7 linked regions of the Homo sapiens genome follow. The protein of the gene in region 1 purifies or fractionates together with the protein of each later gene. This does not show direct contact. Each region holds a gene or a part of one and is shown in the gene's direction. Other genes may lie near its edges.

Region 1 (3,500 bases):
AATATAGGGTGGAAATTGGGATACTTATGATAGAATCATGAGATGTAGTCCTGATATATTCCGAAGATGTAGCCTTGGGAATTTTCATAGATCTTTCCTCCCCCAGAGGTCACACACACACAAAAGCATCACGTCTTGTTTTACAAACATAAGTTGAGGCTGGATCTTCTGAAAACAAAATGGAAACATTGGTGTCGAGTTGGAGTGCTTGCAGTGGACCGTGATGCGCTCTGATTCCTTCTTCACAGTTATTGGAGGGTGGTGAAGAGAGGATGGAGACACCCCAGGAAGACCACCTCAGGGGACAGCACTATCATCAGAAGGGGCAAAATGGTTCTTTCGACGCCCCCAATGAAAGGCCCTATTCCCTGAAGATCCGAAACACTACCAGCTGCAACTCGGGGACATACAGGTGCACTCTGCAGGACCCGGATGGGCAGAGAAACCTAAGTGGCAAGGTGATCTTGAGAGTGACAGGTGAGGTGACCTGCTGCACTTGTTTTCTTCTTGAACAATGCATGTGTACTTCCTTTAGGTCCTAAAATCGTTCCTCTCTTTTGGAGTGTAGCTCTAGAGCTTTGGATCACATCTGTGGCTGAAAGTGGAAATCCGCTGCAAGCATGTCACCATTTTCTCTTTCTGTGGCTTAAATGATGCCTTTTGTTTGACTTTTGCCCAACACTTGTTAGGGGCTGAGGGTGGAAATGATAAAAATGTGGTCACAGAGCCCCTGATTCCGTACAACCGTTGATTTCTCCTTCTGTCAGGGATCTGAAAGGAATTGGACTTCGGGTAATATTATTACACCTGCAAGAGTACAGTCCCTGTTTAAGGGGGCAGTGTGTGCTTTTTGCTTAGTGTTGTATGCACACACCTCCCTTAGGCCCTCCTGGATCTCCAGCCCTTCATCCTGGTTTCTTTGTTTCCTGGTACTTAGTACAACTGGCATGTTATGTATGGATTGATTTACTGTCTGTCTCCCCAAGAGAACAAGAACCTCTGCGTTTTCTTCTCTGATGTATCTGGGCACATAGTAGGCCCTCAATGAATATTCACCTGAATGAGAGGAACCTTGCAGAGGAGAGTGGAGAGGGCAGGCATGTCCTGCAGGGAGTGGAGAGAAAATGAAGAGAATAGCTGATTTTCTCTCCTTTTCCTCTTCCATGGCGATATTGCCTACAACTTAAGGGGTCAGAGTCTACAGTCACTTAGATCTGGCTCAAATATTAACTCTGCCTTTTGTTAGTGTGTGACCTTGAGCAAATCACGGATTGACACTAAGCCTCAGTTCTCTAATCTCTAAAATGGAAGTAACGTCTACAACATAGGCTTGTTGTGAAGGTTAAATGAGAAGTTGCGTTAAAATGCTGAGTGTAGTGCCCGGGATAGACTGAATGACCAATACATATTAGGGACCATGAGGACAATGGCTCTCATTACCCACGGCTGTGAGAATCCATCCCTCGACTGCTGCACAAAATGTCGAATCCATTTTCAGGGGTTGACATCTCTGGAGATCTAGCCATTGGCTCCAATGGCAGAACCCCCTCCGCTCACTTGCACTCCACCTGCTCCTGCCTGGGGCATCAAGCAGATTCTGTTTGCAAGCACACTATAGCCAAAGCTCAACTTGCTTCCCCAAACAGCACATTGGGTGTTGCACCTGAGTGGGGAGAGGCACCTCCCTTCATGTCTGTCCCTGGGCTAAAGGCCTCGCTGCTCTTACCCTCCCTTCGTGCTGCACCAAACCCTTTAACAGCCCTGAGGGAGTTGTTCTTCCACCCAACCATGCTGGCACCCTTGCCGAAAGAGCTTGAATGATTCTAGAAAAATCTGTTGACGTATTTGGCAATATCAGGGCAGCTCCCCTGCTTCCTTTCATAGTCCCTGAAACCTCCTGAGGTGAGGACACACCACAGTCTACCCAACAGTGATGAAGTTAAGATAATTTCTGGATTAACAAGTGGTGGTTCATCTGGTAGGAGGACAAAATAAGCCAGGAAAGGCTTGACATCCGAAGTGCAGGCAGACAGGCCGCAGGATAAGCCTGGACCAGCTGTCTGGCTCAGCCGCCTTGGTCCTTGGTCCTTGACCCTCTCTGAGCCTCGGCTCTTTCATCTGTAAAATGGGACTACTCAGGCCTGTTCTGAAGATTCGGAAAGATGCCATGTGAGAGTCGCATGCAGCCAGACACAGAGCGACAGTGCGCGCCGGCTGCTGCTGTCACCTTCACTGTCACTGTTACTGTCGTTCATCCTGATGGTGGGAAGAGGAGACAAGCAGGACTCCAGGACCAAGGAACAAAGCATTCTTAGCTTTTTTTCATGGTAGAAAAATCCTGTTAAAATGGCTTCACATGTCGCTTACTTTTTTAAAGGATGCCCTGCACAGCGTAAAGAAGAGACTTTTAAGAAATACAGAGCGGAGATTGTCCTGCTGCTGGCTCTGGTTATTTTCTACTTAACACTCATCATTTTCACTTGTGTAAGTATCTTCTTAAAACATCTTCTCTTATTAAAAGATTACCCAGGGCACCAATCCAAGTATCTCTTGCAGATAGTGCGAATCATTTAATAATGGTGAGAGAGATTATTCTTTGAACCCTGGACTTTTTGAGGCCCCTAGACTGGGAGAATCATTACAGGAAGCTCCCTGAAATATTTCCAGCTTTTGTCTAGTGGCTACGTTTAGAGCATTGTGGAAAAAAAAAACAAAGTAAGATATAGGAAGGACGTTTGGGAAATGACAAGGGGTTCTATGCAAGAGCAGAGGCCCTGTAGGCGCAGTGCTAGAAGTTGCAGCGCTGAGGGTCCCCCATCCCAGAGCAGAGGCCCCGCTCTTCCTGTGGGTGAGGGAGTGGGCCCCACTGCCCCAGGGATGCCAGGGGATAGATCAGCCTCCTTTGGCTGCCTTCAAACTATTTCTCGTGGGGGTTCTCCCCTTCTATTTTTGGTATTTCTGCCCATGCCTTAAGAATTAATCCCAAGAAGCCAGAGCAGTGAGGCACAGTGGGAGGCTTCCGGGGTGCAGGATGGCTGGCCGGTGCTCAGGCACCCTAGACATGCCCATGAGCTGTTGGTTGCAGGTTCTGGCTCAAAGCCCTCAGAGATTCTTTCTGCATGGCTGCTCACCTGTGTTGATGATGGTTGTGGGAGAGTAGGGCCACATGTGTGTCTGACCCCTCTAGGAAGTGATCTGCCCCCTTTGTCTCCATCCACCAGGCAGGGCTGGCTACCTAGGGGCCAGGACAGACTTCACCCAGGAGCTACCCCAGGACTGGTTCTTGCCACTCACTGTGTCCCTCTATTCACTTACTTGCCTCTCTGGCTGTGCACTCATCTCTCTGGTTTCTATTTTAGATACCAGTCAATCAGAGACTCCAGTGAGCACCTACTATGTTCAAGGCATTATGCTAGGCACTGTACAGGGCATAAAAAGGTGTAAGACATTGTTCCTGCCCTCAAGGAGCTTACAGTTAGGATGTTAGGGTTATTTGCGTA
Region 2 (4,147 bases), on another chromosome or scaffold:
CTGCACACACTCACCAGCTGACATGCACAACATAGTTCACAGCAGCAATGTTTAGAACAAAAACTGGAAATAATGCACATGTTAAGAGGCAGCAGGATGGATACATAATGAAGTATATTAAACAATGGAAAATTACGGTCCGGGCGCCATGGCTCACGCCTGTAATCCCAGCACTTTTGGAGACCGAGGCGGGCGAATCACGAGGTCAGGAGTTCAAGACCAGCATGAGCAACATGGTGAAACCCCGTCTCCACTAAAAAATACAAAAATTAGCTGAGCGTGGTGGCGCGCGCCTGTAATCCCGGTTACTTAGGAGGCTGAGGCAGGAGAATCACTTGAACCCGGGAGGCAGAGTTTGCAGTGAGCCGAGATCGCGCCACTGCACTCCAGCCTGGGCGAAGAGCACTACAGCCACCTGTAGGTGAATATGAAAAGCAATGCTGAAAGAAGCAAATTGCTGGAGAATACATACGCAATTCCAAAAGCTTCAAAATTGAACGAAACAAGATAGTGATACATACATTATGTGGTAAAGCTATAAAGAAAACCAAGGCAAGCTGATATAAAAAATTCAGAAAATAATTATTAAAAACTTAAGTCATTAACGTTTAGAGAACTGAAATGTCTCTATTTTCCAAATTAATACTCCTGATAATAGCATCAGGTCTTTCCTGATCTTGCCCACTGTCGCAGCTCCCAGTGACACCCCGTTATTGTATTTATTTTTCAAGGACTGAACCATCTGACAATTTGTATGTGCTGCGTAATACATGTATCCTCAGTAGGGGATAGCTTTCAAGGCTAGCGCTTGGCGACGCTCTGACAGTAGAGTTCATTATCTATTGAATGAATATATGCGCTTTGGCACACGTTGGTTCAGCACTACTCATTTTAGTCCGAATCCTTCTCGTGGCTTCCGTTCAGTCGCCGCCCAAACCCCTGCCCCATCTCGCAGGCTCTAAACTCCCTGGACTCGTTCCCGAGTCCCAGACGTAGTTTTCTCCTAGACTCTGCACTGGGCCAACAGAGTGGGAGAAAGGTGGAAGGTCTGGATTGGGAGAAAAGCGCTTCCCAGGCGTCCAAGCATGTGAAGAGAATGAGGTCTTTTCATTCAACAAGAGACCGTTGAATGAAGGCCCCTCAGCAACAAGGCCCGTCAGCCCTAACGCCATGAGGAACGCGCGGCGCTGACGGTACAGTGGCTGGTTAACTAAACCGGATTGCTACCGGCCACCCCGGTGACGTCACGACCTCCTCGAACTCCTGATTGGAGGAGCTGCGTTTGGTCAATTCTCGCGATGACTCCTCCAGGTTACCCCTCTCTCCCTCCCTTTGCCCTGACCCGGTAGTCGACCGTGGACCGCGCTGCGAGCCTCGGAGACGCCGTAGAAGGAGACCTGCTTCCGGGACTGGACCAGGCGCCTGCGACTCTTCTCAGACGCCGACGTGCACGAGGTTTGGCTCCCAGGTGTCCTGCCTGCCAGACCCGCGGTAGCTCGGCTCGGCCAGTTTTGCTAGGGCTGCCTGGCGAGCCACACCAATTCCCATCCTTTGGTATCGCCAGGATTCGGCGGCTGTGAAACTGATTTCCGGTCGCTAAGGTCTCCATGGAGACAGCACTTTAACCACTTTCTCCCACTGTCATTCCTCGACTCCACGTGGTTCAGAAATCGCCCAGAGAATGTTTGTGGGAGTCAGCCAGGAAGGTGTAGAGTGAAGCAGCGTTCTAAAGGGAAGCAGTAAGTGGGACCTAGGAGGAGTGTAATTTACTGGGCACCTTCTGGCCTTGCGGTAGACACGGGATTTACCCCCTTGGGGACCCTGGTTCTTCAGGACACACGTTTAGGCATCATTTGAGCAGGCATAATTACCGAGTCTGCTTTTGTGTAGCCCTCAGAATTGCAAGAGCAAATCCTCCTGCAAACTTGCTTACCTTTCACCAGAGAATAGTCTCCCTAGTTAGGTTTCCCAGTCTCTTCTGGCTTTGTACGATGGTCACTTTCTTAGGAAGCGTGCCTCTATTCCTCTAGATCTGACTATCCCTTTACAAATTATTCTGTTGTCGACACTTTCCTAGCTGCGTCCATTTTTGGTTAAGTGGTTGCTCACCTGCCATTACTGTATGGATTTCTTACTTCCCAAACAGACCATAGGTTCTTAAGATGTAGAATGTCACTTAGATGTAGAATGCATTTTAGGTACCAGATAGTCCACCTTCCTGCCCTTAAAGACATATATCCCTTCTAGAACATCTCTGACAAATGTTTGTTAATTAATTTGTTTATTCGTGAAGTGTTTGTTAAACACCTACTATGTGCCAGGCACTGGTTTGGAAATTGAGACTTGAAACATGAACAAAATAGATTAAAGTTGCTGCCTTCATTCAGTTTGCTACTAGGTGAGACAGACAATATACAAATTTACAAGTTAGGGTAATTTCTGGTACTAGTAAGTGCTATGAAGAAAATTAACGGAAATGGTGTCTACGTGTGTTGTATTGGTGAGATTTTAGATAGAGTGGTCATGGAAGGCTTTTAGAAGGTAATGTTGCAGCAGAAACATGAATGGTGAGAAGGAGTCAGTCTTGCAAAGATGTGGAATGAACATTAAGGGGCAGAGATACTGAGAAGTGTAAAGCCTCTTAGGTGGGAATAAGAGCATCAGGAAGTACAAAGCTCTTGAGATGGTGAAGAGGAGATTGGTTTGAGATGAAGAGTGGAGGAAGGCAGGGTCAGATTATTTAGGGCCTTGAAGGGCAAAATCTCAAGTATTTATTTATTTATTTATTTATTTATTTATTTGAGATGGAGTTTCGCTCTTGTCTCCCAGGCTGGAGTGCAGTGGCACGATCTCGGCTCACTGCAACCTCTGCCTCCTGGGTTCAAGCCATTCTCCTGCCTCAGCCTCCGGAGTAGCTGGGGTTATAGGCGCCTGCCACCACACCCGGCTAATTTTTGTATTTTTAGTTAGTGCAGACGGGGTTTCACCATGTTGGCCAGGCTGGTCTTGAACTCCTGACTTCAGGAGATCCACCCGCCTCGGCCTCCCAAAGTGCTGGGATTACAGGCACGAGCCCCCACTCCTGGCCTCAAGTTTGAATTTTATTCTAAGTGTATTTAGAAACCCTTGGAAAGTTTTAAGGAAGAGAGTAAGTAATTCAATTTGATGAGAGTTTTTTTTAAAGAGATTGCTTTGATGATTGTAAACAGAATGGGCTCTTTGGAGGTAAGTGTAGAAGTCAGGAGACCAGTTAGGGAGCTGTTTCAGGAGTCCAAGAGAAAATATTCAGTCATCTTCTCTTTGAATATTCCTGGTGTTGGAAAATTTCTTTGTTTAAAAGGTAGCCCAGTCCTTAGTGGGACCATAGAGCTTTTCCTTTGTATTGATCTGGAATCTGTTTCCCTGTAGCTTGTACTGACTTTTACTAATCTAATAGCAAGACAAGAAGTCTAAGGCTGGGCGCGGTGGCTCACGCCTGTAATCCCAGCACTTTGGGGGGCCGAGGTGGGTGGATCACGAGGTCAGGAGATCGAGACCATCCTGGCTAACATGATGAAACCCCGTCTCTACTAAAAATAGAAAAAATTAGCCGGGCGTGGTGGCGGGCGCCTGTAGTCCCAGCTACTCGGGAGGCTGAGGCAGGAGAATGGCCTGAACCCAGGAGGCTGAGCTTGCAGTGAGCGCAGATCGCGCCACTGCACTCCAGCATGGGCGAAGGAGCAAGACTCCGTCTCAAAAAAAAAAAAAAAAAAAAAGTCTGTAGTAGACAAATAAATCTATTCCCTTTTTCTCCAAAACAGTCTAGCAGCTGTTTTAAGGCTCTTGTTCTGTTGACTTTTTCTCCAGGCCAAACACCTTTGGTTAACTGAGCTGTTCTCTGAAGGAGGTGCTCTCTAGGTCCTTCAGAAATAGTTCCATTGTTTGTTATGGCTCCTTAGAGTATGGCCGCCAGCGCTGTACCTAATGCTCTACATGTCACCTGGCCTGTTTGAATAAAATCATGCACTCTGATATGGCTGACTTCTGTGGTTTTTGGCAGTCATCTTGGGCTGTTGAGCTGTTTCAAACCACGTTTTGCCTCTCCAGCCTCTCTTTCTGTGTTTTTTTCCCCTAAACTAAATGCAGCCCTTTGTATTTATTTCTGTTT
Region 3 (3,500 bases), on another chromosome or scaffold:
AGTAAATTCAGCATTCTGCCTATTTTAAAACAACTTTTTTTTTCTTTTTTGAGATGGAGTTTCGCTCTTGCTGTCTAGGCTGGAGTGCAATGGCGAAATCTCGGCTCACTGCAACCTCCACCTCCCAGGTTCAAGCAATTCTCCTGACTCCGCCTCCCAAGTAGCTGGGATTACAGGCATGTGCCACCATGCTTGGCTAATTTTGTATTTTTAGTAGAGACGAGGTTTCTCCATGTTTGTCAGGCTGGTCTTGAACTCCCAACCTCGCTTGCCTCGGCCTCCCAAAGTGCTGGGATTACAGGCGTGAGCCACCACACCCGGCATTTTTTTTTTTTTTTTCTGAGATAGAGTTTCACTCTGCCGCCCAGGCTGGAGTGCAGTGGCGCAGTCTTGGCTCACAGCAACCTCTGCCTTCTGGTTTCAAGTGATTCTCCTGCCTCAGCCTCCCGAGTAGCTGGGATTACAGGCATGCACCACCACAACCAGCTAATTTTTGTATTTTTAGTAGAGACGGGGTTTCACCATGTTGGCAAGGCTGGTCTTGAACTCCTGACCTCAGGTGATCCACCCGCCTCAACCTCCCAAAGTGCTGGGATTACAGGCATGAGCCACCACGCTCCGCCCAAAAACAACTTTTAATAGAAATAAGCTAGAATTTATCAGACATAGTCTTTTCAATATATATTTTTACTTTTGATTTAAGATTTAGATTTTTATAGTATTTTTAAGGATATTGTGAAAATGATATCAGTGCCTCAAAGCAACAAAGATTTCTCTAAGATTATCAACTTCTCATTTTATAGAATTATGGCTATGTTTAGTTTAGAGATCTTGATCCAATTCTGGTATCAATTCAGTACTTTGAATTTTGTTTTATAAAATGCACACTTATTTTTAAAAACTTAGTTTTTAATATATTTTTACTACCAGAACATCAGTTTATAGTACTTACTCTACCTAAAATTAGAAGATAGCTATTAATGAATGAGTTTTTTTTCTCTCCCTTCCCAGCAAGTTTCCTCCAAGCCTTTATGCTACCAGGATTTCTAAAGCACACCAAGAGGAAATAGCAGGTGCTTTCCTAGTGACACTGGATCCACTTATCAGTCAGCTGCTCACATTTCAGCCTTTCATGCAGGTGGTTTTGGACAGTAAATTAGGTAAGCTTCAAAATAGATTTAATGATAAATCATCTATTATGACATGTTAGAGACACTGATTTCCCCTAGCCATTCTTTTTTACAATTAAGAAATTTTTATTAAGTTTCTTTTACTTTCTTTTCTTGAAACATATTTCTTATTTAAAAATTATACCTGGCTGGGCACAGTGAATCACACCTGTAATCCCAGCACTTTGGGAGGCCGAGGTGGGCAGATCACCTGAGGTCAGGAGTTCAAGACCAGCCTGACCAATATGGTGAAACGCCATCTCTACTAAAAATACAAAAATTAGCTGGGTGTGGTGGCATGTACCTATAGTCCCAGCTACTCGGGAGGCTGAGACAGGAGAATCGCTTGAACCCAGACGGTGGAGGTTGCAGTGAGCTGAGATTACACCACTGCACTCCAGGCTGGGTGACAGAGTGAGACTCTGACTCAAACAAAAAAAAATTATTCCTTTACGTATTAATCAGATTTCTGCTGAATTAATGTGTTTTTATTACATGTAAGACCTGCCATGTGAACTGCAGTTTCCACAATGTCTTCTTCTGGTTGTTGTCATGGATAAGCTGCCATCTCAGCCTAAGGAAGTGCAAACCCTGTGGTGCACAGACAGCCAGGTCTCAGAAACGACAACCAGGTAGCAAACATGTTTTTATCCAGTCATATTACCAATGGTTAAGAAGGCCCTGTTGTTTGGAATGGTCTTGAAATTAAGTTTGTGTGTTTTTTTTTTAAATCAGATATTTATGTTAATAGTTATTGTGTAGACACACATATATATTGCTACTTTATAAAAGCAGATAAATATAAAATATATAAACCTATATTAGATGCTAAAAATATTTTAATATTTAATTTTGTTCAGTATTGCTTAATGGTCAGCATTATAAACATTGATTGTAATAGAGTAGCTATAAGTAGAAACATTTAAAAACGAGCTCTGATAAATAGAACACTAGACACTGTAAGGTATATCCTGGCAAATTTAACCTTTAATCATCTTCCTTGCCAACACCGTAGTCCAGGCTCTAGTTTCTTTCTTCCTGGATTACTCTGTGCTCTAATTTTTCACCTCTTCCTTTATCCCATTCTGCGTACCACGATGAGGTTAGTCTCCCTAAACCTGGCTCTGAGCTTCCTATTCTGCTCAAAAACTGAAACATAATGTTAGAACTTCTCAGCTTTGGATTTAAAGCCTGTCCCATACTATTGTCATCTTCTGCTTTTTCTCCTCATTCTTGTATTCATTTTCAACACATATTCCTTGCTTCTGTCACCCCCTTATTTGTGTGCTTTTACTCGTGCTTTTGTCTTCTTTACGTACTTACAATTTGAACAGTTTTGTTTTGTTTTTTTTTTGTTTGGAGCAGGGTCTTGCTCTGTCACCCAGGCTGGAGTGCAGTGGCATGACCATGGGTCACTGCAGCCTCAACTTCCTGGGCTCAAGTGATTCTCCTACCTTAGCCTCCTAAATAACTGGGACTAATGGTGTGTGCCAGCTGTCCTGGCTAATTTTTAAATTTTTTCTAGGGATAAGGTCTCACTATGTTGCCCAGGTCTTCCAACTCCTGGGCTCAAGTGATCTTCCCGCCTCGGCCTCCCAAAATGCTGGGATTACAGGCGTGAGCCACTACACCCTGCCCATAACTTGACTATTTTTAATTTGTTGTTTAAATCCTCTAAGTTTCTTCAACCATTTTAATCTTAAAATGACTCCTCGTCTGCTACTTATTTTCTGTTTTTCCATATAATATCTAATTTAGCTATTTAAGTTTCAAGTTCCTTGAGGAACTTTGACTTTGTGTAACTCAGTACCAAGATAAACAGTTGGTAAATGATGCAAAAAATGTCCAGGAAAATTCTCCTTTAAGGAATTTCTTTGACAGTGAATATATTTTCCTTTTATGTGTACATATTCACACGTGTTGGAAACTATTGCTGATTATACCTCTTGAAACATTTTCTGCTTAAACAACCTTCCATGTTACATATTATTATTATAATTGCTAATTAGTAAATGTTATTAATGTTGGGTTCAATGTTCTCAATTTCCCTGCAGGATATCTCTACTCAAAGCCGTTTTCTACAGTTTTGAGCAGTGTTCTGGTGAACTCTCTCTACCTGTTCATTTACAGGGATTAAAGAGTAAGGGGAAAGCTGAGGTGGCTGTCACCTTGTATCAGCATGTTTGTGTTCATCTGTGTACATTTATTACTTCCTTTCATCCCTCACTGTTTGCTGAACTGGTAAGCATATTACTTACTGTGCTAAGCTAAGGTTACACTTTTGCTTTCTCTTCATTGAAATTGTGATTCATATACAGAAGAAAATGTGGG
Region 4 (3,500 bases), on another chromosome or scaffold:
GAAGTAGGGCAGGACGAAAACAGGAACTTGAAGTGGGTCATGCTCGTTGAACTGGAAACACTGAGTTGATATCTGGGTTATTTCCCCTGACTGTCGCAAAACACACTTAGACAAACCCTGCATTTATTCCTTTAGAGTTGGGAATGGGAAGAGTGTGTGTGTGTGTGTGTGTGTGTTGGGGGGTGAGGGGACTACTGCCCAGGCTCTACCTTTGTGGGAGGATCCTCCCCTTCCTTCCACCAACCCCACTTGGGATGTCCCAGGCTGGTGGTGAACTCGTTGGGCAGGTCAGTACTGTGTTTATAAAGCGTGTCCTCAGCACACCCTGCAAAGTGCCTGGCAAAACATAGGCATGCCACAGATACTTTAAAAAAATGTTTTTCCTGCTTACAAAAGTAAGTCATGTTGATTTAATAATATCGAGAAAACACAGAAAAGCATACACAAAAAGTCACTCTTCGACTTAGACGTGATTAATATTTGGTATTTGTGTATATGTAAATATGCATGAAAGAAAAGCTGAGAAAACATACTGCAGAGTGTTTTCCACGCTACTAATTCCTCTCCTAAGACATGATTTTTAAAAATCGATTTTATCAAGGTCTAAATTGCATGCAATAAAACTCAGACATTTTAAGGCACATAGTTGGTTAAATTTTGATAATTGTGTGCACCTGTGTAAACATCACCCGGATCGCAGCAGCCCAGCACCTTCTCCTGGGCCCTGGGCTGTTTTCTCACCAGGGACAGGCACGATGCTAATAGAGTTTCATGTAAATGGAATCATGCCATGTGCACGTCTTTGTGCCCGGCTGCTTTATCTCATGTAAATGGAATCATGCCATGTGCACGTCTTTGTGCCCGGCTGCTTTATCTCATGTAAATGGAATCATGCCATGTGCACGTCTTTGTGCCCGGCTGCTTTATCTCATTTTGTTTTTTTTAAGATTCATCATGTCAGCAGTTCCTTCTTTCTGGTTACTAAGTCATATTGCATTGTGTGGGTGCACTAGTGTATCCGTTCACCTGCTGATGGGCTTCTGGACAGTTTGCAGTCCATTCACCTTGACTATGTGGATAAAGACACCCTGACCCTTTAGGGGCTATGCTTTTGCTCCTCTTGGGTGCATATTTAAGAGTAGAAAGCTGGATTATAGGAAAATGTATATATATATATATATATATGTATGTATGTATATATAACATATTTTATTATATTTTTGGAGTCTTCCTCTGTTTCCCAGGCTGGAGTGAAGTGGCAAGGTCTCGGCTCACTGCAACCTCCACCTCCCGGGTTCAAGTGATTCTCCTGCCTTAGCCTCCTGAGTAGCTGGGATTATGGGCACCTGCCACCAGCTAATTTTTGTATTTTTAGTAGAGACAGGGTTTCACCATGTTGGCCAGGCTAGTCTCGAACTCCTGACCTCAGATGATCTGCCTGCCTCGGCCTCCCAAAGTGTTGGGATTACAGGCGTTAGCCACTGCACCTGGCTGTAAATTCTTACAAGAAAATAGAGGACAGTTTATAATATTGGAATGGGAAAAGGCTCTCCTAACCAAGATGGAATCCAGAAAGAATAAAGAAAAAGCTAGATTATTTGACGAAATAATTTTAAAATTTCTTTTGTAAGATATCATAAATTTAAAAAAAAAGATAAGGGCCGGGCGTGGTGGCTCACACCTGTAATCCCAGCACTTTGGGAGGCCGAGGCGGGTGGATCACTTGATGTCAGGAGGTCGTGACCAGCCTGCCCAACATGGTGAAACCCTGTCTCTACTAAAAATACAAAAATTAGCCAGGCATGTTGGCGTGCGCCTATAATCCCAGCCTCTCAGGAGGCTGAGGCACGAGAATCTCTTGAACCTGGGAGGCGGAGGTTGCAGTGAGCTGTGATTGCACCACTGCACTCCAGCCTGGGCAACACGGCGAGACTCCATCTCAAATAATAATAATAATAATAAAATAAAAATAAAAAATGATGGGGGTGATATTTGCAACAAATAGGATAGAGAAAGGGTTAATTTTTTTTTTTTTTTTTTTTTTGAGACAGAGTCCCACTCTGTCGCCCAGGGCTGGAGTGCAGTGGCGTGATCTCAGCTCACTGCAAGCTCCGCCTCCCGGGTTCACACCATTCACCTGCCTCAGCCTCCCGAGTAGCTGGGACTACAGGCACCCACCATTGCACCCGGCTAATTTTTTGTATTTTTAGAAGAGATGGGGTTTCACTGTGTTAGCCAGGATGGTCTCAATCTCCTGACCTCGTGATCCTCCCTCTTTGGCCTCCTTAAGTGCTGGGATTACAGGCGTGAGCCACCGCGCCTGGCCAGGTTAACATTTTTTGAACATTTTAAACTTACATAAAAATTGATAGGAAAAAAGGCAGACAATCCATTAGACAAATGGCAATGGATATAAGTAGGCGATTCACGGAAGAAAACATTCGGAAGTGGATGCTGAGCGTCTGAGTAGATACTGACCCAAGGCAATGATGAGATGCTGCTCTCAACCAGCAAGGGATGGGGAAGGGCGAAAGCACAGCTCTGTGCTGGGGAAGTTTCAGGACGCTTCTGGGCTGGCAGACCCGGTGAATGGGAAGTGGGAACTGCTAGGGTGTTTTTGGAAAGTAATCTGGCAGTGTTTTCAAACTGTAAAAAAAAAAAAAAAAAGTGATATCCTTTGACCCAACAATTCCATTTTTGATTATCTATCCCAGAGAAATTAAACCACCAGTATTTAAGAAACTTTCATACTCGAGAAGATACACTTTCTGTGTGTTTAAGAAACTCCTAATGTGTTTTACTTCCCGTCCCCCCCACCCAATTTATTTTTCTTCTCTAACAGTCTAGATTTTTGCATAACAGCGTTTTCTATGAGAAATGCAGCTGAGTCCTGCCTTTTGAGGGTTATCTCAGGAACCTGTAGCTGGTCCAGGATGCATCTCAACTTAATGGCTTCAGCGATTAGCCCAGCGTGGACTTCCAGGCACGAGTTCTCCTCTGTCCTGGAGACAGCCAGCCTGTCACCCGCATACAAGCTCCAGCTACTCGGCCTCTCTCCTAGGCCAGTGGCCCACCCTCACCGCCTGCTGGGTTCTCGATTCGGCTGTCCGGATCCCACACGTCTGCTGGGTTCTCGATTCGGCTGTCCGGATCCCATACCTCTTCTCTCCTTTCTCGCTGACCTTGGTCCCCTTTTTGCCACAGACTGGGTCAGATGACTTCTGCCTCCAGCTGGCCCCGGTCTTCCCCTCCCGACCCCTCCTGCTGCCTTTTGAATTTCTTTAGGGAGCACCCCGGCGGCTGAACCCTGGATGATGGGGATTGGAAGTTTAGAGAGCACCCTGAGGGTCACTAATCCCTTCTCCAGTGCCGTTGGCCCGTCCTGACAGCCAGCCTGTGTGCCCCATTGATGTTTAGACACCCTGCCCTGCTACAAAGTTCTTCCAGGCACTGCTCGCCCATGCGTGCCTGTGGCCTGGCTTGCATTCCTGACCTCCCCC
Region 5 (3,500 bases), on another chromosome or scaffold:
TTCTTTTTTGTTTGTTTGTTTTGAGATGGAGTGTCTTTCTTCTTGCTCAGGCTGGAAGGCAATGGCGCGATCTCGGCTCACTGCAACCTCCGCCTCCCAGGTTCAAGCGATTCTCCTGCCTCAGCCTCCTGAGTAGCTGGGATTACAGGTGCCCACCACCACGCCCAGCTAATTTTTTGTATTTTTCGTAGAGATGGGGTTTCACCATGTTGGCCAGGCTGGTCTTGAACTCCTGACCTCAAGTGATCTGCCCGCCTCGGTCTCCCAAAGTGCTGGGATTACAGGTGTGAGCCACTGCGCCCGGCCTATATTCTTATAATAATGGACAATTTAGATAAAGCAACTTTAATACTTCTGTTCCATTCATACTGAAAATTGGCATGATGGTTTATCTTTTTTTCAAGTCATTGTTGCCAATAAGCTAGGCAACTGGCAAACATCATGTATGAAATTTTTTGGGCTTGACATACTTTCCAGTGGTAATTGCTTCTAGTGGTTGGCTAGGTGGGGGTATGAGTTAGAGTAGGCTCTGGGTATCCACAGGTTCTACATTCGCAGATTCAACCAACTGCAGATTGAAAATAGGGGAAAATAACCATACAATAATAAATAATAGTGCAAGTAAAATATACACTATAACAGCTATTTTACATAGCATTTACATTGTATTAAGTGTTATAAGTAAAGATGATTTAAAGTACATGAGGTAGGTTATGTGTAAATACTATACCATTTTATGTCAGAGGCTTGTGCATCCTCCCATTTTGGTATCTGTGGGGAGTCCTGGAACCAATTCCCAGTGGATACTGAGGGATGACTGTATGATATGTCTTGTTAACTTGACCAAGAGTGGTAGTAAAGCAAGTGTAACTTGATATCACTTAGCACATCCTGCTGTTACAATAAGGCTTACTCATGATTTTTCTGAATAACATAATTTATATTAAATGTCCTAAATACTAGCACTGATCAAGTTTAAGAGCATTCCTAGTGAAATATTTTCTTATTAATGCAGTTCCCTTCATATGTATATTTATTTATTTATTTCCTTCCTTCCTTCCTTCCTTCCTTCTTTCTCTCTCTCTCTCTCTCTCTTTCTTTCTTTCTTTCAACAGAGTCTTGCTCTGTTCCCCAGGCTGGAGTGCAGTGGCGCAATCTTGGCACACTGCAACCCCTGCCTTCCAGTTTGAAGCCATTCTCCTGCCTCAGCCTCTGGAGTAGCTGGGACTACAGGTGCCCGCCAGCAGGCCCGGCTAATTTTTGTATTTTTAGTAGAGGTGGGGTTTCACCATGTTGGCCAGGCTAGTCTCGAACTCCTGACTTCAAATGATCTACCCACCTTGGCTTACAGAGATTACAGGTGTGAGCCACCATGCCCAGGCTACCTTCATATGTATTTTTCTTTTCTCTTCTCTCCTCTTCTTTTTTATTTATTTATTTATTTATTTTTGAGACAGGGTCTGGTTCTGTCACCTAGGCTGTAGTGCAGTGGTGAGAGCTCTGCTCACTGCAATCTCCGCCTCCTGGGTTCAAGAGATTCTCGTGCCTCAGCTTCCCAAGTAGCTGGTGTTACAGGTGCATGCCACCACGCCTGGCTAATTTTTGTATTTTTAGTAGAGATGGGGTTTCACCACGTTGCCCAGGCTGGTCTCGAACTCCTGGCCTTAAGTGATCTGCCCATCTCTGCCTCCCAAAGTGCTGGGATTACAGGCATGAGCCACCGTGCCCGGCCCATATGTATAATATATTTCTTATCCCCCTCCCCGAGCAATTTAGCATAATCTTTGACCATTTTTCTGTTTTTGTCTTTTAAATTAGTTTATCTCAGCAATATTAATTAGTACTTACCATAATCAAAGGCTTGAATACAATTTGGAGGTCTATCTGGAGACTGGACAATTTATGAATAGAGATATAAGGGTTTAGGGAGTGGTGCCTGTTTAATAATGATTTCATTTTCTTTTTTTGCTTTTTTTTTTTTTTTGAGACGGAGTCTCACTCTGTCGCCAGGCTGGAGTGCAGTGGCGAAATCTCAGCTCACTGCAACCTCCGCCTCCTGGGCTCAAGTGATTCTCCTGCCTCAGTCTCCTGAGTAGCTGGGACTACAGGCGCCCGCTATCACGCCCAGCTAATTTTTTCTATTTTTAGCAGAGGGGGTTTCACCATGTTGGCCAAGATGGTCTCGATCTCTTGACCTCGTGATCCACCCGCCTCCATCTCCCAAAGTGCTGGGATTACAGGTGTGAGCCACTGCGCCTGGCCGATTTCATTTTATCATTCGATGCTTAAATGTGATATTTAAAATTAAGCATTTTGTATTAAATAGTAATACATTCTTCATGTGCTAGATTCAAACAGTAACTTTCTAAAGAAAAACTTGATTTCCCTTTCCTCCCTATCTCTTTGCAGAGCTGTAACTGCTCCTCAAGTTTGGTGTGTGTTCTACAGGCTTTTTTTTTTTTTTTTTTGAGACAGGGCCTCACTCTGCACCCAGGCTGGAGTGCAGCCACATAGTCTCGGCTCACTGCAACCCTCCATCTTCAGGCTTTCTTCTTAACCTTTCCTTGGCTTTAAATGTTTTTTAAATAAATCTGTACTTTCAAATAGACTTTACTTTTTGGAACTTTTTTCCCCCTAAGATGGGTTCCTGCTATGTTGCTACCCAGGCTGGCGTCAAACTCCTTGGCTCAAGCGATCATTCCCCCACTGACCTCCCAAGTAGCTGGGACCACAGGCACACGCCAGCACACCCAGCTGAAACATTTTTAATTTTTCAGAAACACTGAGAAGACAGTAGAGAGTTTCCATATGCCCTATGCCCAGCTTTCCCTATTAGCATCTTATATCAGTATGGTACGGTTTTCACAATTATTGAACCAATATTAGTACATTGTTATCAATTAAAGTCTGTACTTTGTTCAGATTTTCTAAGTTTTTACCTAATGTCCTTTTTCTGTTCCAGGATCCCATCCAGGATCCAGGATGATATAATGTGGTAATGTTACATTTAGTCGTCCTGTCTCCTTAGGCTCTTCTTGGCTGTGAGTTTCTCAAACTTTCCTTGTTTTTGATGAGCTTGACAGTTTTGAGGAGTATTGGTCAGGTCTTTGTAGAATGTCCCTCAATTGGGGTTTGTTTGATGTTTTTCTCATGATTAGACTGGGGCTGTGGATTTGGGGGAAGACCACAGGTAAAGTGCTGTTCTCATCACATCATATCAAGAATGCACACTTTCAACATGACTTATCATTGTTGACATTGACCTTGATCACCTGGCTGAGGTAGTGTTTCTCAGGTTTCTCTTCTGTAAAGATACGTTTTACCCCACTTTCCATACTTACTCTTGGGAAGGAAGTCACTATGCATGGTCCACACATAAGGAGTGGGGAGTTATGTAACACCTCGCTGAGGGCCAAGTATTGACATGAATTATTTGGAATTTCCTGCATGGGGCATTTGTCTCTGCTCTGATAATTTGTTTAGTATTTATATCTGTATAG
Region 6 (3,500 bases), on another chromosome or scaffold:
ATGTGAAGGGAAGCACCAATCAGAGTGAAGTTGGTCTAGAAATAGAAATTATCATTCTTAAATAAATGGTGGAAATTCATATAAATATGTGAAGGGAAAAGGGTCATTGAATCCCAAGTTTTCAGATTTTCAGTAGCTGCTTGTTTGAATACTTTAGAACTCATTTCCCAGGTTTCCTCAGCTACCCTTATTTCAATTAACATATGAGTCAGATATTTCGTTCTAGTTTTTTATCATGCCACATGGTAGAAGAGTCTTGCAAAGAGAAAATTAATCTTTTTGGCAGATTAGTAATTTTTTAACTGAAAATAAGGTTCTGAAAGTCTGAAACTAGAAAAAGAAGTCTTTTAGTGTAATTCACCAGCCTAGCTTTATTTTTTCCCTTCAAACTCCCTTTTATTTTCTAGTTAAGACAATATTGAGTAGCAATTAGACACTCTTGGTTTCTCAGCCATCTGCTAGTGTTGAGGTTTATTTATTTATTTGAGACAGGGTCTTGCTCTGTCAAGCAGGCTGAAGTGCAGAGCATAATCATAGTTCACTGAGGCTCGAACTCCTGGGTTCAAGTGATCTCCCCAGTTCAGCCTCCTGAGTAGCTAGGATACAGGCACGTAACACCATACCTGGTTAATTTTTTATTTTCTATAGAGAGGAGGTCTCGCTAAGTTCCCGAGGCTGGTCTTGAACTCCTGGGCTCAAGCTATCCTCTCACCTCAGCCTCCCAAAGTGTTGGGATTACAGGCATGAGCCACCACACCCGGCCTTGAGGTTTATTTTGAATAGCTTCAAGTAATTTCAAAAGTCTGAACTGTGAAGATACCGTGCTACCATGGCCTTAGAAGGGATGGACAAAGATTCATCTATGGCCAAGCTCAACAGAGCCTTATTAAAGATAAAGAAGGGCCAGGCACAGTGGTTCACTCTTGTAGTCCCAGCACTTTGGGACACCGAGGCGGGAGGATCACTTACGGCAAAGAGTTCAAGACCAGCCTGGGCAACGTAGCAAGGCTCGGTCTCCACAAAAAATTCAAGAAATTAGCTGAGCATGGTGGCATGCGCCTTTAGTCCCAGTCCCAGTTACTTGAAAGACTGAGGTGGGAGGATCGCTTGAGCCCAGGAGTTTGAGGGCACAGTGAGCTATGATCGTACTACTGCACTCCATCCTGGGTGACAGAGTGAGTCCCTGTCGCAAATAAAATAAATCAATAAGAAGGATTTTTAAATAAAATACTTTTTTTGTTTTCTCTTACATGGTTATTTTTCACAACTAAGTAATGTGTGAAATGGTGCAGCTAGTAAACAAAAGTACTTCCGAACATCTCAAGCAAAAACTGTCTTACTAAACTTCAGCTGCTAACTTTTCACTGTGGCCACATCTGTATACTACATTTACGTAAATTGATCTTCTTTCCCTTCTTCTACCTTGATTATCTTATGATGCTGGGGATTATTACTAACTTGATCCAAGATCAGGGTGTATGAGAAAAAATACTGGTACAATAAATGCAAAAAATATATCATTATTGAATAAAGGTTGCAACTATTGCTTATGAAATAAAATTACTTAGTCTTTTCTTTAATTACATATCAAATTAGTAATTTTATTTTCCAAGTTGTTGCTGCTAAAAATGTCTTAATAATATTGGTTTGGTTAAGTCTTAATTATTTAGTTTTAATTTGGTAATAATTGTGGGTACACACAAATTACTTGCAATATTGTTTTTAGTCTGATAATTTTGCTGCGTACTTATCTGTAACAGAATAATGAATAGCACAATGGTAAATATTAGCAAATTTTTTAAATGCCCTATCATAGTGCATTTAAAAAATAATGACATAATTATTAATATAAATAATATGACTTCATAATTACAACTGTCATGCTGAATATTATACAATTATTTTATTTCCGTTCGGGGATGTAATCTTGCATGAATGTTTGCCATACTGCATGTGTTTGCTTTTTATTCAGTCTTCTTGGATCCATTTTCCCAATGCCTCGTGTAATCTATGCTATGGCGGAGGATGGGTTGCTTTTCAAATGTCTAGCTCAAATCAATTCCAAAACGAAGACACCAATAATTGCTACTTTATCATCGGGTGCAGTGGCAGGTGAGAGAGAGTTGACTTTTCTTCAGAAACGGGGGATCTTTTTCATCAAGGACTCTGCATTAAAAATACAAAGCTAGGTGGTTTTCTTTTTTGATTTCCAAGAAGTTCAGTCACTTTTTTGTGAGTGTTTCCTATTTTGAATTTTTTGGTTCTGCATTTTCGTGTGTCCAGTCTTTACCTGTCTATACCTGTCTAGAATAATCCTTAAAATAACTCATGTGTGGATTTTGAATTTTTCTGTTCTAGTCTTCTGGGCTCTATGTTTCCTTTACCCCGAATTCTGTTTGCCATGGCCCGGGATGGCTTACTGTTTAGATTTCTTGCCAGAGTGAGTAAGAGGCAGTCACCAGTTGCTGCCACGTTGACTGCAGGGGTCATTTCTGGTAAGCTTTACAAACTTAGGTTTCTTGAGCATTAGACTGGAACATTTAATTCGCATGCATGGACTTATAAAGAGGGTCTGCATGCTGTGCATGTAAGTTAAAAAAAACAAAATCACTGATAAAAATTAGTATACAAGCATTGGGATTAACATGTGAAAATTGTGGTGGCGGTGGTATAATGAAGTTCATTCTTAATTGACCCTTTGGGATTTTTTTTTTACTGTTTTGTTATTTTAATCTTTTGGGCTCTAACAAATGTACAAAGGGTTATAATAGCTCTTCACTAAATATTATGAATTGCTTTTCTGATGAACTAGCACACAAAATTATATTATTGATACATAAACTTCTGATTAAGGAATTCTTGCTTAATTTTTGAAATATTAATTTTAAAATAATGATTCAATTTTTTGGTCTAGGATATACGTCGAATATTGCTAAGGGACCATAGGGTAAATTAAGCTTTACCCATTATTAATAAGAAATATTCAAGATGATTTATGCTTGGCCCTTGTGATCGCCATCCTCAGTATGGTGGGCATCCTTGCTTCCAGGGCCATCGCAGCCATCTAACAGTTAGGAACATACATATCCTCTCCAACTCCATCAGGAATCTATTTTTCCTTTCAACAGTTTTGGTACTTAAATTATGTTCAGAAAATCCAGATTGCTAGTCTTTTGGCACATCTTAATATCCATGTAAAATACCTTTGGCCAGATCCTTATCTCATGCAGAAAATTTCAGTGAGATTCTAGATCCAGACAATGGCCTTAAAGGTACTGTTACAGGAAGCAAAAGAAAGACTTTTGCAAGCTTTATACATAAAATAATGAACAATCTTGGCACTATAAATTCAAACCAAAATGACAATTTCGTTGAGGCTCTGAATTGTTAGGAAATTAGCTTAGAAAAAGCTAGTGCTTCATTCTGTGTAAAATGGAATTTTTTTCAGGGTCAGAATGTATTTGTTTAAACACTTTCACTTTGTAAACATTTTCTTATAA
Region 7 (3,500 bases), on another chromosome or scaffold:
TGTAAGTTCAAAAAAGCCATTCATGGAAGATCTGATAGCTGATATAAGGTGACTGAAATCTGTAAGACAGGTGTTCACCCTTACCTTTGCCTTCAAAACCATCATTATATGGTTTACTGTATCAAGCTAGAAAAGGTAATTGTATCAAATGTTATTTAATGAATTTTTTTTCCTTAACCAAAGGAGCAACCCTATTGACTGAAAAAGTCATTATAAAATCTCTCGTTTCCCTAATTTAGTGCATGTTTTATGAGATTAGTGAACTTTTAGTACTTTTAGTAAATAATACTTAACCAACTTTTTTGTTTTCACTTGGAGAATTTGTATGGAAAATGAGAACTGCCCTCTGTAGGCAGGTCTTAAAGACCAGTGTTTTATTCATATGACTCAGTCCTATGTGCTTTTTGTATGTGTGATTGTTAACAAGATTTTGGGAAAACAAATTATTTGAAATGTAGTAGACTTACAGCTTTGGTGCAGCATAGATCTTGAAAAATATGTTTATGAACTAGAAGAAGAAAGGTGGACATTTTGAATATTAACATCTTAAAAATACATTGGGGTCATTCTCCCCCCTCTTACCCCCCTGGTCCATTGCTATATAAGGCAGCATCATTTTGCAGTGACCAATTTTTTTTTTTTAATTCATGGTGACTCTGCTTTTAAAGAGAACTTGCTTGAGATATTTTTTAATATTTCTCGTTATGCTTAGGCACAATAATTTTTTAAAAAGTAATAGGCCAGGCCAGGCACGGCGGCTCACGCCTGTAATCCCAGCACTTTGGGAGGCCGAGGCAGGCGGATCACCTGAGGTCGGGAGTTCAAGACCAGCCTGACCAAAATGGAGAAATCCCATCTCAACTAAAAATATATAATTAGCTGGGCATGGTGGTGCATGCCTGTATCCCAGCTACTCGGGAGGCTGAGGCAAGAGAATGGCCTCAACCTGGGAGGCGGAGGTTGCGGTGAGCTGAGATCGCGCCATTGTATTCCAGCCTGGGCAACAAGAGTGAAACTCCGTCTCAAAAAATAATAATTAATTAATTAATAGGCCAGGGACCAGGCAGTGGCTCATGCCTGTAATCCCAGCACTTTAGGAGGTCGAGGTGAGCAGATAACTTGAGGCCAGGAGTTCAAGACCAGGCTGGTCAACATGGTGAAACCCCATCTCTACTAAAAAAATATATAAAAATTAGGCTGGGTGCAGTGGCTCACGCCTGTAATCCCAGCACTTTGGGAGGCCGAGGCGGGTGGATCACGAGGTCAGAAGTTCGAGACCATCCTGACTAGCATGGTGAAACCCCGTCTGTACTAAAAATACAAAAAATCAGCCGGGCATGGTGGCAGGCACCTGTAGTCCCAGCTACTCAGGAGGCTGAGGCAGGAGACTGGCGTGAACCTGGGAGGCTGAGCTTGCAGTGAGCCGAGATCGCACTGCTGCACTCCAGCCTGGGCGACAGGGCGAGACTCCGTCTCAAAAAAATATATAAATATAAATATAAATATATATATATATATATATAAATTATCCGGACGTGGTGGCGTGCGTCTGTAATCCTAGCTACTCAGGAGGCTGAGGCATGAGAGTCCCCTTGAACCTGGGAAGTGGAGGTTGCAGTAAGCCAAGATTGCACCACTGCACCCCAGCCTAGGTGGCAGAGTGAGACTCCATCTCAAAAATAACAACAAAAAATTAATAGGCTGGGCATGGTGGCTCATGCCTATAATCCCAGCATTTTGGGAGGCCGAGGCGGGCAGATGGAATGAGCTCAGGAGTTTGAGACCAGCCTGGGCAACATGGTGAAACCCTATCTCTTCAAAAAATATAAAATTAGCTGGGTGTGGTGGTGTGTGCCTGTAGTCCTAACTCCTCAGGAGGCTGAGGTGGGAGGATTGGATCTCTTGAGCCCAGGAGGTGGAGGTTGCAGTGAGCTGAGACGGTGGTACTGCACTCCAGCCTGGGCAACAGAGAAAGACCCTGTCTCAGAAAAAAAAAATTATATATATGTGTGTGTGTGTGTGTGTGTGTATATATATATATATATATATATATATATATATATACACACATATATACACACACAAACACATTAACTGAAGTCACAATAATTTTTTCATGTGCTGTTTCTCATTGTTCAGATGGCTCTGCAACCTGGATTGTATTAGGTATAAATCCTATGCAAATAGACTATTTTATTGCCATTTCATTGTCTAAGGAAAATGTCATTGGCCTATAAAAGTTGAGGCCTAAAAGACATAGTTTAAAAATGTTTTATCTCTTATGGAGCTGAAAACATTTGGTATCACCAATATTATGATTAAAAGGTTGTTTAACTTTTTTCTTATTAGGATCCACCTCAGAAAAAGATGGAATGCACCATACTGTCACCAAGCACAGAGGTATAATTACACTCTACAGGCACCAGAAAGCTGCCTTTGCTATCACAAGTAGGCGAGGTCCTACCCCCAAAGCAGTAAAAGCTCAAATAGCAGATCTTCCTGCAGGAAGTAGTGGAAATATTCTTGTTGAACTTGATGAGGTAAGTAGTTTTTTTTTTTTTTTAATGCTTTGATTTTTAAACAAATATCTGACTTACAAATTGAGAACTAAGTTGTATTAGCTTCCAGAGTTGTTTTTAAGTAAAGAAATGGGATTAATTTTTGGAGTACTCCAACAATATGATCCAGAAAAACGGCAAACTTCAAATATCTCATGTCTCTTGTAATTTTTACCAGCTTAACTTTATCTTCCTAGGCAAGACAGCCTTGTAAACTAATTCAGTCCTATAGCAGTGACTGTAGAGAAGGTGCTCAATAATAGTGAAAGCTAACTTTTCTCTGTCCTTTCAATGCACAAATGTCATATAATTGCAACCCACCTGACTTTTTTAGTCAATTTGATATTTATTAAATGCTTAGTGTGAGGTAGGGTTCTAAATTTATTTTTCATATGAACAGCCAGTTATCCCACTATTGAATCCTTTCCTCTCTGATTTATAATGGCACCTCTGTTAATGGCTTCATATGTGTGAGGGTCTATTCAGGCTTTCCATTATCTCCCATTGGTCCACCTGTTACACCGTACAGTCTTAACAAGCAGTGGTTTTTAAAAAGTGTTTTGTTTTGAAAATCTGACAGTCACATTATTAGCAATAGAATGAATGCTCTAGTTAGTTCTTTGGAATGCAAGGCATAGGAATGTACCTCAGTTCAGCAGTAAACCATCAATACTAAAAGACATGTTTCTGTAAAATATAAACCCCTTTTAAGTTTCTTTTTAAAATCAACAGCTTATCTATATTTCCCTTAAAACATTCTGTAAAGTCTTTTTCATTGACAATATTTCCCTATAATAATTGTAATAAAAATTTTACTGTGATTTTGATATTTATATCTCTAGTTTGCATAGTTATTCCTCCAATTAAACATAATTTTAAAAATATAAATATCTTTTTGGGGGGACAGATTTATGGACCGTAATTACTGCTGAATAAGAATTA

Evidence for each region.
Region 2: the proteins of CD83 (region 1) and THADA purify together in Homo sapiens (affinity purification with mass spectrometry; 2 studies listed by BioGRID and IntAct, with this or other methods). This does not show direct contact.
Region 3: the proteins of CD83 (region 1) and FIRRM purify together in Homo sapiens (affinity purification with mass spectrometry; 2 studies listed by BioGRID and IntAct, with this or other methods). This does not show direct contact.
Region 4: the proteins of CD83 (region 1) and CERK purify together in Homo sapiens (affinity purification with mass spectrometry; 2 studies listed by BioGRID and IntAct, with this or other methods). This does not show direct contact.
Region 5: the proteins of CD83 (region 1) and NDFIP1 purify together in Homo sapiens (affinity purification with mass spectrometry; 2 studies listed by BioGRID and IntAct, with this or other methods). This does not show direct contact.
Region 6: the proteins of CD83 (region 1) and SLC7A2 purify together in Homo sapiens (affinity purification with mass spectrometry; 2 studies listed by BioGRID and IntAct, with this or other methods). This does not show direct contact.
Region 7: the proteins of CD83 (region 1) and BTAF1 purify together in Homo sapiens (affinity purification with mass spectrometry; 2 studies listed by BioGRID and IntAct, with this or other methods). This does not show direct contact.

The regions. Positions count from the first base shown.
Region 1 is NC_000006.12:14,131,272-14,134,771, forward strand, and holds part of CD83 (CD83 antigen isoform a precursor), read left to right. Parts: intron 1-248; coding exon 249-477; intron 478-2,377; coding exon 2,378-2,484; intron 2,485-3,500. UniProt on the Homo sapiens protein: Transmembrane glycoprotein predominantly found on the surface of many immune cells including dendritic cells or lymphocytes that plays various roles in immune response regulation.
Region 2 is NC_000002.12:43,593,239-43,597,385, reverse strand, and holds the start of THADA (tRNA (32-2'-O)-methyltransferase regulator THADA), read left to right. Parts: upstream 1-1,347; 5' UTR 1,348-1,455; exon of another isoform or gene 1,456-1,739; intron 1,740-4,147. UniProt on the Homo sapiens protein: Together with methyltransferase FTSJ1, methylates the 2'-O-ribose of nucleotides at position 32 of the anticodon loop of substrate tRNAs.
Region 3 is NC_000001.11:169,826,040-169,829,539, forward strand, and holds part of FIRRM (FIGNL1-interacting regulator of recombination and mitosis), read left to right. Parts: intron 1-53; exon of another isoform or gene 54-176; intron 177-1,011; coding exon 1,012-1,160; intron 1,161-1,671; coding exon 1,672-1,801; intron 1,802-3,223; coding exon 3,224-3,410; intron 3,411-3,500. UniProt on the Homo sapiens protein: Regulates PLK1 kinase activity at kinetochores and promotes faithful chromosome segregation in prometaphase by bridging kinase and phosphatase activities.
Region 4 is NC_000022.11:46,731,753-46,735,252, reverse strand, and holds part of CERK (ceramide kinase), read left to right. Parts: exon of another isoform or gene 1-641; intron 642-3,500. UniProt on the Homo sapiens protein: Catalyzes specifically the phosphorylation of ceramide to form ceramide 1-phosphate.
Region 5 is NC_000005.10:142,115,279-142,118,778, forward strand, and holds part of NDFIP1 (NEDD4 family-interacting protein 1), read left to right. Parts: intron 1-3,500. UniProt on the Homo sapiens protein: Activates HECT domain-containing E3 ubiquitin-protein ligases, including NEDD4 and ITCH, and consequently modulates the stability of their targets. As a result, controls many cellular processes.
Region 6 is NC_000008.11:17,552,588-17,556,087, forward strand, and holds part of SLC7A2 (cationic amino acid transporter 2), read left to right. Parts: intron 1-1,972; coding exon 1,973-2,112; intron 2,113-2,358; coding exon of another isoform or gene 2,359-2,495; intron 2,496-3,500. UniProt on the Homo sapiens protein: Functions as a permease involved in the transport of the cationic amino acids (L-arginine, L-lysine, L-ornithine and L-homoarginine); the affinity for its substrates differs between isoforms created by alternative splicing.
Region 7 is NC_000010.11:91,989,770-91,993,269, forward strand, and holds part of BTAF1 (TATA-binding protein-associated factor 172), read left to right. Parts: intron 1-2,349; coding exon 2,350-2,540; intron 2,541-3,500. UniProt on the Homo sapiens protein: Regulates transcription in association with TATA binding protein (TBP). Removes TBP from the TATA box in an ATP-dependent manner.